2 separate regions of the Homo sapiens genome follow, and region 2 is linked to region 1. The links come from fine-mapping of genetic effects on gene expression. A gene starts in region 1. The other region holds a variant in brackets. All regions are shown on one strand. Distances are between the middles of the regions. Region 1 holds the start of TMEM161B-DT (TMEM161B divergent transcript). Region 2 overlaps TMEM161B-DT (TMEM161B divergent transcript).

Region 1 (5,389 bases):
GATTAAAACAAGAATTAAATCAAAACATTCCAAGAGTTGTGTTCCATTCTGGAGCAGTATTTAAGACAGTAGTGAAAGACTTGGCCAAATATACAAAGATTCCAAGTACTATCTATGTGACTTATGAAAAAAATGAAAAAGAGAATGATAAAAGAAATCAAACTTAAGCCAAAATGGCATGGAAACAAAACAGTGGAAATCAGACTAACTTTTATTTAATCTGAAACATGTAACTATCCTCAAAAATGTTGAGTAGTCATGGAATCATAAATTTAAGAAGGTGCTTTAATACCCATCAAGTCCCACTTCTCTTACCCAGGAGGAATTTGGAACTCTTATCAAAATTGAGTGACTTTTCCAAATCCATATAACTAACAATGGGCAGAATCTGGGTCCTCTGGGGTCAATACTAATGTTCTTTTCATAATATCATTAGGCCCCAGCAATGCAAAACAAGTTCTGATTTCAACAAGCTGAATCCTCAATAAATTCAGCCCATGTTCACTTCATTTAATGGTTAAACTCTTCCCTTTGAAAAATTCCAAGCATTAACCACACTTGCATATACAGACATTATCAATTTCATAGCTGGGAAAGATAAAACTCAGCCAAGATAATTAGCTCAGAAATATAAGCACTTCCAGAAGGAAAAGAGCCAACTAGTTAGTTCCAAAATGACATTCAGAAAAACAGCATAAGATTACATTAGTTCCAAACATTAACCATCTCTTTTGAACCGACAGGATAAGCAGGATTCTACTTCTAGTATTCCAAAACACTGAGAACAAGTTCATGTTCAGCTTTTCTGTGACTATGATGAACTTAAGTATTTTAATTATACTTTACCTTCAACTTTTCAGACCAAAAAGTCAAAAATTAATCTTAAATTTAAAAAATGAAAATATGAGTTTTAGTCCAGACTGCCAAACTACTGTTACTTTAGAAAAATCACTGTCAATTTCTAGACCCCAGATTCTTTCTTCTGTAAAAATGGGGATGGAAGAGTGATTACTAGGCTTTGGTTTCTCCCAGTTCTGTTTTCCCTATCCTTGTCTAATTTCACTGATACAAAAGAAAAACAACTTTCTTAATACAAACCATATTATTCACTGAGGCTTAAAAAAAAAAACTTTAAAGAGATAGGTTATCTGGTAAAGTGCACCAGGAACTACATTATTTTGAAGGTCTTTGTTCTACATTCAGCTAAGTTTCTAAAAGTCATTCAAAAGCCAATCACCACACACATTAACTGAATGTTGGCAATATTTGGCCCTGAAAATATAAGACAAACTGAAGCTAAATTCCAGGACAGAAGCCTCTGCAAGTGAGGGTTTGAAATCTTGTATACGGTGAAGAAACTGACAATAATGAACTTCACCAGAGCCCCGTGATCTTGAAAAACAGCAAAGGTTAAGAAACCCCTTGCCCCCGTTTGTGTTCTGAGAAATTGGCTTACTGCAAAGAATCATCTTTCCTGTAGAACTTAGATAAGACTAAGGGTTGATCCATACCCCCCTACCCCTTGTTTACCTATAACAAGGCCATAACTAGACCCTTCTAATTCCCATCCTTTGCTTCGTAAATGACTTGCTGAAGTACCTGTCCCACAGATCAATCGGAACAAAATACTTATTAACCAAACTTTAAGATTCTCTTCTCTCGGGTACCTGAATTTTGTCCTTCCCTCAGTCTGAAACAACATATACAAACCTCTCCTAACAGCTCCTCCTCAGAATACATGGGCTCAGGGTAAAACATTATCTGGTTACTGCCGGATCATACCCATATTTTCATCCCAATTCCTGACATCTTATTTACCCCTACCAACAAAAGACAAACCCTTTCTGCCTAACCTTTAAGGTGCATGCAAATCTTACGGTCATTCTCCCTACTGCAACAGTTCCTTCAACCTTCCTCCACACCCCTGCAATATTCCTTTCGAATAAAGTCTGTCCTTACTAAACTCGGGTTTTTTATTTGACACCCTTTTCAATTATGAAATGGCTAAGTGTAAAGAATAAGGGGACTACCGTTTCTTTAAATGACAGGTGTTGATCTTATACAAGGAGACCCGTTGTGTCCACCTGGAGAGGCTAAAAGCATTTCTAAGATCTGAAGTTCTTGGCCACTGTTCCGCGGATGGAGAAGGGGGCGCAGAAGAGGTGACTGACCCGGCAAGGTCAACTCTGGGATCACCTGGCGCCACAGGCCATACACAGTAAATGGGCCATGAACAGGCAGGCTACCCAGTCCATACTCCCTGACAGATACGCCCCTGCCTCCGGCCCGCTAGTCTCCCAGACAGGTAGGCGTAATGCTGCTTCCTCAGGGGCTCAGACACCCTGAGATAGGTGGTGGGTCCTACCCAGCAGCTCATCCCAACGTCTCAACTCCATTCTGAGCAGAGCACCTGATGGCTCTTTTCACAGTACTGACCTCCCCGCCCTTTTCGCCCCACCGTTGTCACTCCTGCCCTCACAGAAGAACTCACCATGGCGCCTAGGATAGGTCGTGGACCAGACACCCTGGAGTTGCCGGGGCAGTCCCAAACCTCTTACCTCCCGGTCCTTGAGCCGAGAGACTCTCAAACAGCGAAAGAGAGGGTCTTCCGGCTCTGCCGGAAGTTGTGCGCGCGCGGGACAGGAAGTTCCTCCCTTCTCCAGAGCGCCGTCGACCCCACGCCACGCAGAGGTGAAGATACGCAGGACGTCCTCTAAAGCAACTTCCGTGGGTGCCAGGTTGTGGGCTGGGGGCGGTGCTGACCTTGAGAGAGCGGAGGAGGCGCAGGCGCAGCACAGGTACGTGGGCGGGCGGATCGTGGTGGCTGCGCTTGCGAGGACCCTGAGGTAGATTGGGTGGTTTCAACAGGAACGCATCCACTGTCTGAGAGGTGACGGAGGCACACGTTGGTGTGGGGAGCGGGAGGGGAGAGGGAGGGGGGCGGGTGGGGGGCGGGAGGGGGCCAGGGGTGGGAGTGAGGGTGCGCGATGGGAGTCGACTCCAGACCCAGGTGATTTAGAGAGAGTAAAGACCACCTTTGGCCGTCATTTTGTCTCAGCTTAACTGACGCCCTCTTGTTACCCTCTAGTTTTCCTGACTCGGTCCCTTATTAGCATATCCTCATTTCCACAGACCTGTCCGTCTGTTGCTTCTGTTCCCTGCCTTAGTGGGTACCGTAGCTCTACCCTCCTTCCGGGCAATGGAATCTCATAGTGAGAAGTTTCTTCACTATTCACAGGTGGCAATTGAAGCCGGAAGAACATCTACCAAGAGCAGAGAACCCAGGAAGAAAATTCTGCCTCTTTAATACGTTCCAATATGGACGTTTTCCATATAGATACCTATCTATATAGATAGATGCTCTGGGATCTGACGGTCCTGGACACCTGTATGGCTGTGTGCTGTGGTCTTTGCCTAGCCTGCGGTTCACTTTTGCTCTGGCCACCACCTCCCCTCATGTACAAACCGCGTCTCTGCTCTGCCAGTCTTGGCCCCCGTCAGGCAGCGGTTCACTCCCTCACCAGGGAAGTCTAGATAGATAGATATAGATAGATATCGATCGATAGATATAGATATATATATAGATAGATAGATAGGTAGATATATGGATAGATATAGATATTTGGATAGATATGTAGACGTCTATCTATAAATATATCGATATATCGGGGTTCTCAGCCATCCCAAAGAAGCTTGCACAGGGCCAGTTGCTTTATGTCAGGAAAAGGGACACAGACTGAGTGTATGAGGGTTTTTTTTTTCTATAGATGTATAGATATTTATATCAGATGCAAATAAGTGAAACTCTCATACAACTTTTAATTTTGTGTTTTTTCCAAACTCTATTCCATTCAACTTTTTCTGCCTTTTTATTTGATTATAATGAGACATCGTACTGGAGGCAGGCTTGAAATGGATATACAGAGCACTTTCAACCCAGAAATTTGTCTCACGACTTGGGGTCCTTACTTAAGTTGTAGCTGTTAGTAATTTCATCCATGAATTCACTTTGTGCCATAGTGTGATGTTTTGTTATGAAGTTGGAATTGGGAAGGGAAACTAGGAAGTTTTGGGAGAAGTTAAGAAGGTTGAGTAGGCAGGCGTTGTTATAGATATTAAATTTCACCCTGCTTATCAAAGTACCTGGAGCGTATGGTATCCAAGCTGTAAATGGCCCAAAGGAATCGGGGTTCTCAGCCATCCAAAAGAAGCATGCACAGGGCCAGTTATTTTATGTCAGGAAAGGGGACACAGACTGAGTGTATGAGGGTTTTTTTTTTTGTTTTTTTTTTTTAGTTTAAACTTGATTTTGTGAGGGGACGAACAGCGTGACAATTAAAAGAAGATCTGGGAATCGTAAGTACTGACAGAATACCTGGAGGGAAGGTGGGACTGGAGAATAGTTTGTGAAACAGATCCTGCTGAGGATGAATCCAGAACTTCCTGAAGGGTTCCGCTTCTGCTGTGTAGGGACAAGGTTGTAAATAGACAAGCCACAGGCACCTGCAAATGGTAAGTGTGGTAGAGAGGGGCTGGAATTGCCTGTTGGTGTATCTGTGGGAAGCAGCTGCTATCCTTGAGGAAGAAAAGATGGAGAAGGTAAGTGGCTATCAACCTGTCAGAGACAACACATTCTGTGAAGTTGTACTCTTTCATTTCTGACACTGTGGTTCTTAATATCTGTCCTAAACCTGGCAGTCATTGAGGTTCGCAAAGTATCTCCTTCTATGTGACAGTAAAACTGGAATTACTATCAGAATGGAATCCATTCCTGCTAGAGTAAAACCATGAAAAGAAATCGCAGTTTTGATTATCTGCTTATCATTTTTAATAGATCACAGAGTGCAGTGTTCCTTATTTGTTGTATGGCAAGTTGATGAATAACTCTTGATTAATATCTTTTAATGTTCTGTTTCACACAGTTCTCTCAATTACATGTGAAAAATCTGTTATATAAGTAATGCTATTTAATGATTAAAATGGATATATGTTTTAAGGTAGTGCCACCCAGTCTTTTTTTTTTGGTAGAATAATATTATTATCTATTGGTTGCCTGCCTTGAAGTACAGTAATTTCTCTGTTTCCATTATTTAAAATAGGTGAGTGTCTTTGACAAAGATACAAAGAAAGGGGACAGTTATGAAAGGGAAGAAAAGATAGATGGAGATGAAAAGAAATTCAGTAGTTTCAGCAAGGGAATTAGGAGCATAATCTTTGAGAAAAGTCTTGGTTGCTTACCATTCGGGCTTTGTGATGAGTTGAAATGTCCTGAATGAGAACTGTTCTCAAATGCTTTCAAGACCAACAAAAAGTACGATACCCACACTGACCTGGAACTCTTTAAACCATTAAGATATATCACTTTTTCGCAGTTCAGTCCATATTTTTT
Region 2 (5,389 bases), 56 kb after region 1:
CCCAGCTAATTTTTTGTATTTTTGGTAGAGATGGAGTTTCACCGTGTTGCCCAGGCTGGTCTTGAACTCCTGAGCTCAAACGATCAACCCACCTCAGCCTCCCAAAGCTCTGGGATTATAGGCATTACCACTGCACCCAGCCTATATGTGCCTTTAACTCCATTGTAGAATGCATATTGTGTAGAGTGTATTCTATTTTTTATTATCACATCATGTGAAAAGTTCAGGACTAATTTTAACAAAATTTGACGTTATGTTTATTATGGTCTGACTGAAACTAAAGATTCCAAAATGCAAATAATCCCTCAGGGCAGCTGAAACTAAAGCACAACATGTATGACTACTCTTAGAAGAGGCGTGCCATAAGCAACAAGACACAATGGAAGGGAATAAACAAGCAGTGGTTTCTGAGGGTCAGGGACTCCAAGTGGCAGTTAATTTGAATTGACTGCTTCCCACTTGGGTAACTCTAGGTATATACTCCAGAGGAATTAGTAGCAGGAAATTCATTCTTTTTTAATATAAATTTCTTTTGATAACAATGTATTCGTTATGAGGACATGAGCATGGGAAAGAAAAGCTAAGATGTTAAACAGATGAAAATATTTACATAACTTCAAATAGTTGCAAATACAAAGCCAAGGAGAAGTAGATTGAATTACATTTTCTAAAGAAACTGTCGGACCCAGCCACTGAGCTTTCTCATCATTCTCCATGGTCCCCAAACCTCTGCACCCTCCTGTTCCATCCTCTCCCCCAACCTGGATAAGCAATGTAAAAGCAATTTCAGTGTTTAAGTTGAACTGTGGTTAGTGTAGCTGAGTCACAGAATAAACTGGAAAGAGCCATTCAAGGAAAAAGAAAAACACGTACTATAATTGAAGACAAACATCACTCAGTCTATAACGCATTTTCAGGAATTCATGTATGTGTTTTTATATATAAGATATATAAATATAATATGCATAAATATAGTCACTGGGCAATCAGCAGAAAGTATTTAAGGTAACTTATATGCATTGCCAAAATCTGCGATATATCATATTTTATTTAGTGCATCCAAATACCCCAATTATTACTAAATGGAAGCAAGCTGATAAGCTGCAAGCTATCTCTAGAAAATTGGGCATGAGACTATGTTAGAAATCTTCCAGGAATAGAAGTAAACAGAAAACAACTAAGATTAGTTGCTTGCATATTTTTAGTTAATATTAAATTAAAAATGTACCGGCTGGGCACGGTGGCTCACGCCTGTAATCCCAGCACTTTGGGAGGCCGAGGCGGGCGGATCACGAGGTCAGGAGATCGAGACCATCTTGGCTAACACGGTGAAACCCCGTCTCTACTAAAAATACAAAAAATTAGCCGGGCGCGGTGGCGGGCGCCTGTAGTCCCAGCTACTCGGGAGGCTGAGGCAGGAGAATGGCGTGAACCTGGGAGGCGGAGCTTGCAGTGAGCCGAGATTGTGCCGCTGCAATCCGGCCTGGGCTAAAGAGCGGGACTCCGTCTCAAAAAAAAAAAAAAATGTACCATGTGGTTTTCAAACCTTTGATTTAAGATAATAAACAAAATTTTTGTTTTAAATGTGAAGAGTACCTCCTCCGAAGAATTCCTAAAATAAAACAGAATGCTTAATTACATAAATAACTGTGATAAAGCTGTGTTTCATTGTTATATTTGTCTGGCAATAAATGAGGGATTTCAGTCTTTCATTTGACATCTTTTAGAAGTACTAAATTTACCAAATAAAGTAATCAATCATTTTTATTTTCTTATATACTTTCAGAAAGTAAACAAACTGGTGGTTTTATTAACATTTATTAACCTTATTGTCATGTTACAGATTTAATATTAAATATATTGCTTATGTGTTGTGAAGATTTGAAAAATATATTCTAAATGGAAAGAAATAGGCTATTTCTTGAAAAACAGAAGAAATACAAAACTAAAAAATATAAATGTTCAGTTCTACTAGGATTTTAATATATACCCCAAAAAGCATGTGGTGGAAACTTAGTACCTGATGCAACAGTGTTGGGAGATGGGACCTAATGGGAGGTGTTATGGGAGGTGTGGGACTCTGTCATAGCAGCACAAAACAAACTGAGACAACTTGCCATAAAATGTAAGCATTTTTTTTCAGAGAGGGAGAGAAAACAAAACAAAACAGAACAAAACATTTTTCTCCTTCAATCAGAGTTTTAAAAAAAAATTAGTGGCCGGGTGTGGTGGTTCACGCCTGTAATCCCAGCACTTTGGGAGTCCGAGGCGGGTGGATCACGAGGTCAGGAGATTGAGACCATCCTGGCCAACATGGTGAAACCCTGTCTCTACTAAAAATACAAAAATTAGCTGGTCATGGTGGTGCGTGCTTGTAATCCCTACTTGGGAGGCTGAGGCAGGAGAAACGCTTGAACCCGGGAGGTGGAGGCTGCAGTGAGCTGAGATTGCACCACTGCACTCCAACCTGGCGATAGAGTGAGACTCTGTCTCAAAAAAGAAAAAAAAAATTAGTGACTTGGGGCTGACAATGGGAAGCATAACAGCGACAATGGCAGATTTAGTTGTTTGATATTGTTTCTGTAAGACTTAACACAGCATGTGTGAGATATTGTCCTGGCCCTCAGCTCTACTGCACTCTAAGGCACATGTAGGCATGCAGTGGTAGACAGTTCTGGTGCCA[T/C]GTGATCGAAGATTTAAAATGCCAGGATACAGAGATTGCCCATAATTTGGTAAGCAGTGAAGAACAAATGAAAATTATAGGGAAAAGAGGGGCTTATGCTTAGGAAAATAAATTCTAATGAAAGACTCCAAATAATTTATCTAGTGTGAAAAACTGGTAACTAAATGAATTTGAAATGAAGGCTTTGAAAGACAGCGTCTAACTCAGACATGGACTAATAATCATGTAATCGATAAAGGACCTCACAAATGGGATCCTAACAGGTATGTCAGAGATTTTTTAGATGCAAGTAAAATCTTACGTAGAGGAAAGCTGAGGTTGTGGGAAACCTGGTCAGTAGTTTTCAAACATTTTTATTTTAATAGTAAGTATTTAAATCAAAAAATAACAATAAAAAAGAAATGAATATATGCAATATCTTGTTAAGACCAGTGAGAAACATCTCACTGGGTGCTTCTCATAGAGACAAGGGCACCCAACAAGTTTCAGTATGGCCCCACAGCTTTGGCTTCTCTGCATTTTTGTTTGTTTGTGTTTTTTTTAAGGAGACCAGGCCTCAATCTGTCACCAAGGCTGGAGTGCAGAGACATGATCATAGCTCACTGCAACCTGGAACTCATGGGCTCAAGCAATTCTCCCGCCTCAGACTCCCGAGTAGCTGGGACTATAGGCATGTGCCATCACACCCAGCTAATTTCTCTGCATAACTTTAGGGCACTGCCCAACTCAAGTAATGAGGGCTAAAAAGATGACTTCTCCCGGTACTCTATATACCCTTGTCAATGATAAACCAGGCTGGCCTTTTCAAAGATGCATCCTTAGATCTTTGCAAATTTCCAAATTACTCAATACCACCAAAGTATATAATTATTCTCCGCTACTCTAATATAGAATATTATAATTTTATCAGAGCAACTACACATACTATTAGTCAAAAACTACAAAAACATCATGAAATGGTAATGCTAGGTAATTCTTTAGGCTCACTTGTTACCTACAATACTTTTACCTTCACATCAACCTTGCATAATAATGTAACTGTTTAGTCTTTTTTTAATGCACGGATTTTTTTGGTTCAATAAATAAATTTTTCCCAGCTTTACTGAGGTATAGTTGGCAAGTAGAAATTGCATATATTAAGGGTGTATAATATGATGTTGTGATATATGTATATATTGTAAAATGGTTACCATATCAACCTAATAAACATATCTATTGCGTCACAGTTATCTCTTTGTGTGTACGATGCAAATATTTGAGATCTTCTCTCTTAGCAAATTTTAAGTATACAATGCATTATTATTAATTATAGTCACCGTGCCATACATTAGGGCTCCAGAACTTGCTAATCTTATAGCTGCAAGTTTATACTCTTTAACCAACATCTTCCCATTTCTCCTTTCCCCTAACCACTGGTAACCAACCTTCTACTCTCTGTTTCCATGAATGTGACTTTTTTAGATTTCACATATAAGTGAGATTATGCAGTGCTTGTCTTTCCGTGTGTGGCTTACTATAATGTCTTCCAGGTTCCTCAATGCTGTCATAAATGTCAGAATTTCCTTTTTTTAAAGGGTAAATAATATCCATTGTGTGTGTGTGTGTGTTTTGTGTGTGTGTGTGGATCACATTTTCTTTATTAATTGATCAGTTGATGGACACTTAGATTGATTCCATATCCTTGCTATTGTGAATAGTTCTGCAGTGAATGTGGTAGTGCAGCTATATCTTCAACATATCAATTTTATTTTTCTTTGGATATATATATTCAGTAGTGAGATTGCTGGATCATACAATAGTTCTATTTTTAATTTTTTGAAAAACCTCCATACTGTTTTCCATAATAGCTGTACTAATTACATTTCCACTAACTGTGTATGAGACTTTTCTTTTCTCTACACCCTAACCAACACTTGTTATCTTTCAATTTTTTGCTAATAGTCATCATAACAGGTGCGAGGTGGTATCTCATTGTGGTTTTGATTTGCATTTGCCTGATAATTTAAGATATTGAGCACCTTTTCATATACCTCTTGGTCATTTTTATGTCTTCTTTGGAAAAATGTACATTCAGATCTTTTGCCCACTTTAATTTTATTTTTAATTTTTAGCTTGTTTGTTTTTTTTTGAGAGGGTCTTGTCTGTCAGCCAGGCTTTAGTGTTGTGGTGTGTCACTGCAGCTTCAAATGCCTGGGCTCAAGCAATCTGCCTGCCTCAGCCTCCTGAGTAGCTAAGACTACAGGCACATAGCACCATGCCCAGATAATTTTTTTAACTTTTGGTAGATACAGGATCACACTATGTTGCCCAGGCTGGTTTTGAACTCTCAGCCTCAAGCAATCCTCCCTCCTCAGCCTCCTAAAATGTTTGCATTATGGGCATGAGACACTCTGCCCATTTTTAACTCAGGTTCTTTGTTTTTTCTGCTATTAAGTTGTGTGAGTTCCTCATATGTTTTGGATATTAATTCTTTTTATGGCTATGTGGCTTGCAAATATTTTCTCCCATTCCATAGGTTCCTTTTTCATTTTGTTGATTGTTTCCTATGCTGTGCAGAAACTCTCTAGTTTGATGTAATCCCATTCATTTATTTTTGCTTTTGTTGCCTGTGCTTTAGGTGGCATATCCAAGAAATCATTGTTAAGTCCAATGTCATGGAGCTTTTCACCTGTGTTTTCTTCTAGGAGTCTTAATAGTTTCAGATCT

What was found.
Region 2: its variant is fine-mapped to the expression of TMEM161B-DT in whole blood (INTERVAL, PIP 0.98).

Annotation. Positions count from the first base shown.
Region 1 is chr5:88,266,230-88,271,618 of GRCh38, forward strand. TMEM161B-DT (TMEM161B divergent transcript) reads left to right here and starts at 2,653. Exons shown (of 3, transcript NR_039995.1): 1 at 2,653-2,798; 2 at 4,297-4,356. TMEM161B (transmembrane protein 161B) reads right to left here and starts at 2,616. Exons shown (of 12, transcript NM_153354.5): 1 at 2,492-2,616. The coding sequence starts at 2,494. RefSeq lists enhancers at 2,403-2,902, 2,593-2,782.
Region 2 is chr5:88,322,170-88,327,558 of GRCh38, forward strand. The region is part of intron 2 of TMEM161B-DT (TMEM161B divergent transcript); the gene reads left to right. Among named protein-coding and RNA genes, the nearest start is that of TMEM161B-DT, 56 kb to the left of the region's middle. The variant T/C (reference allele first, on the strand shown) is at 2,684.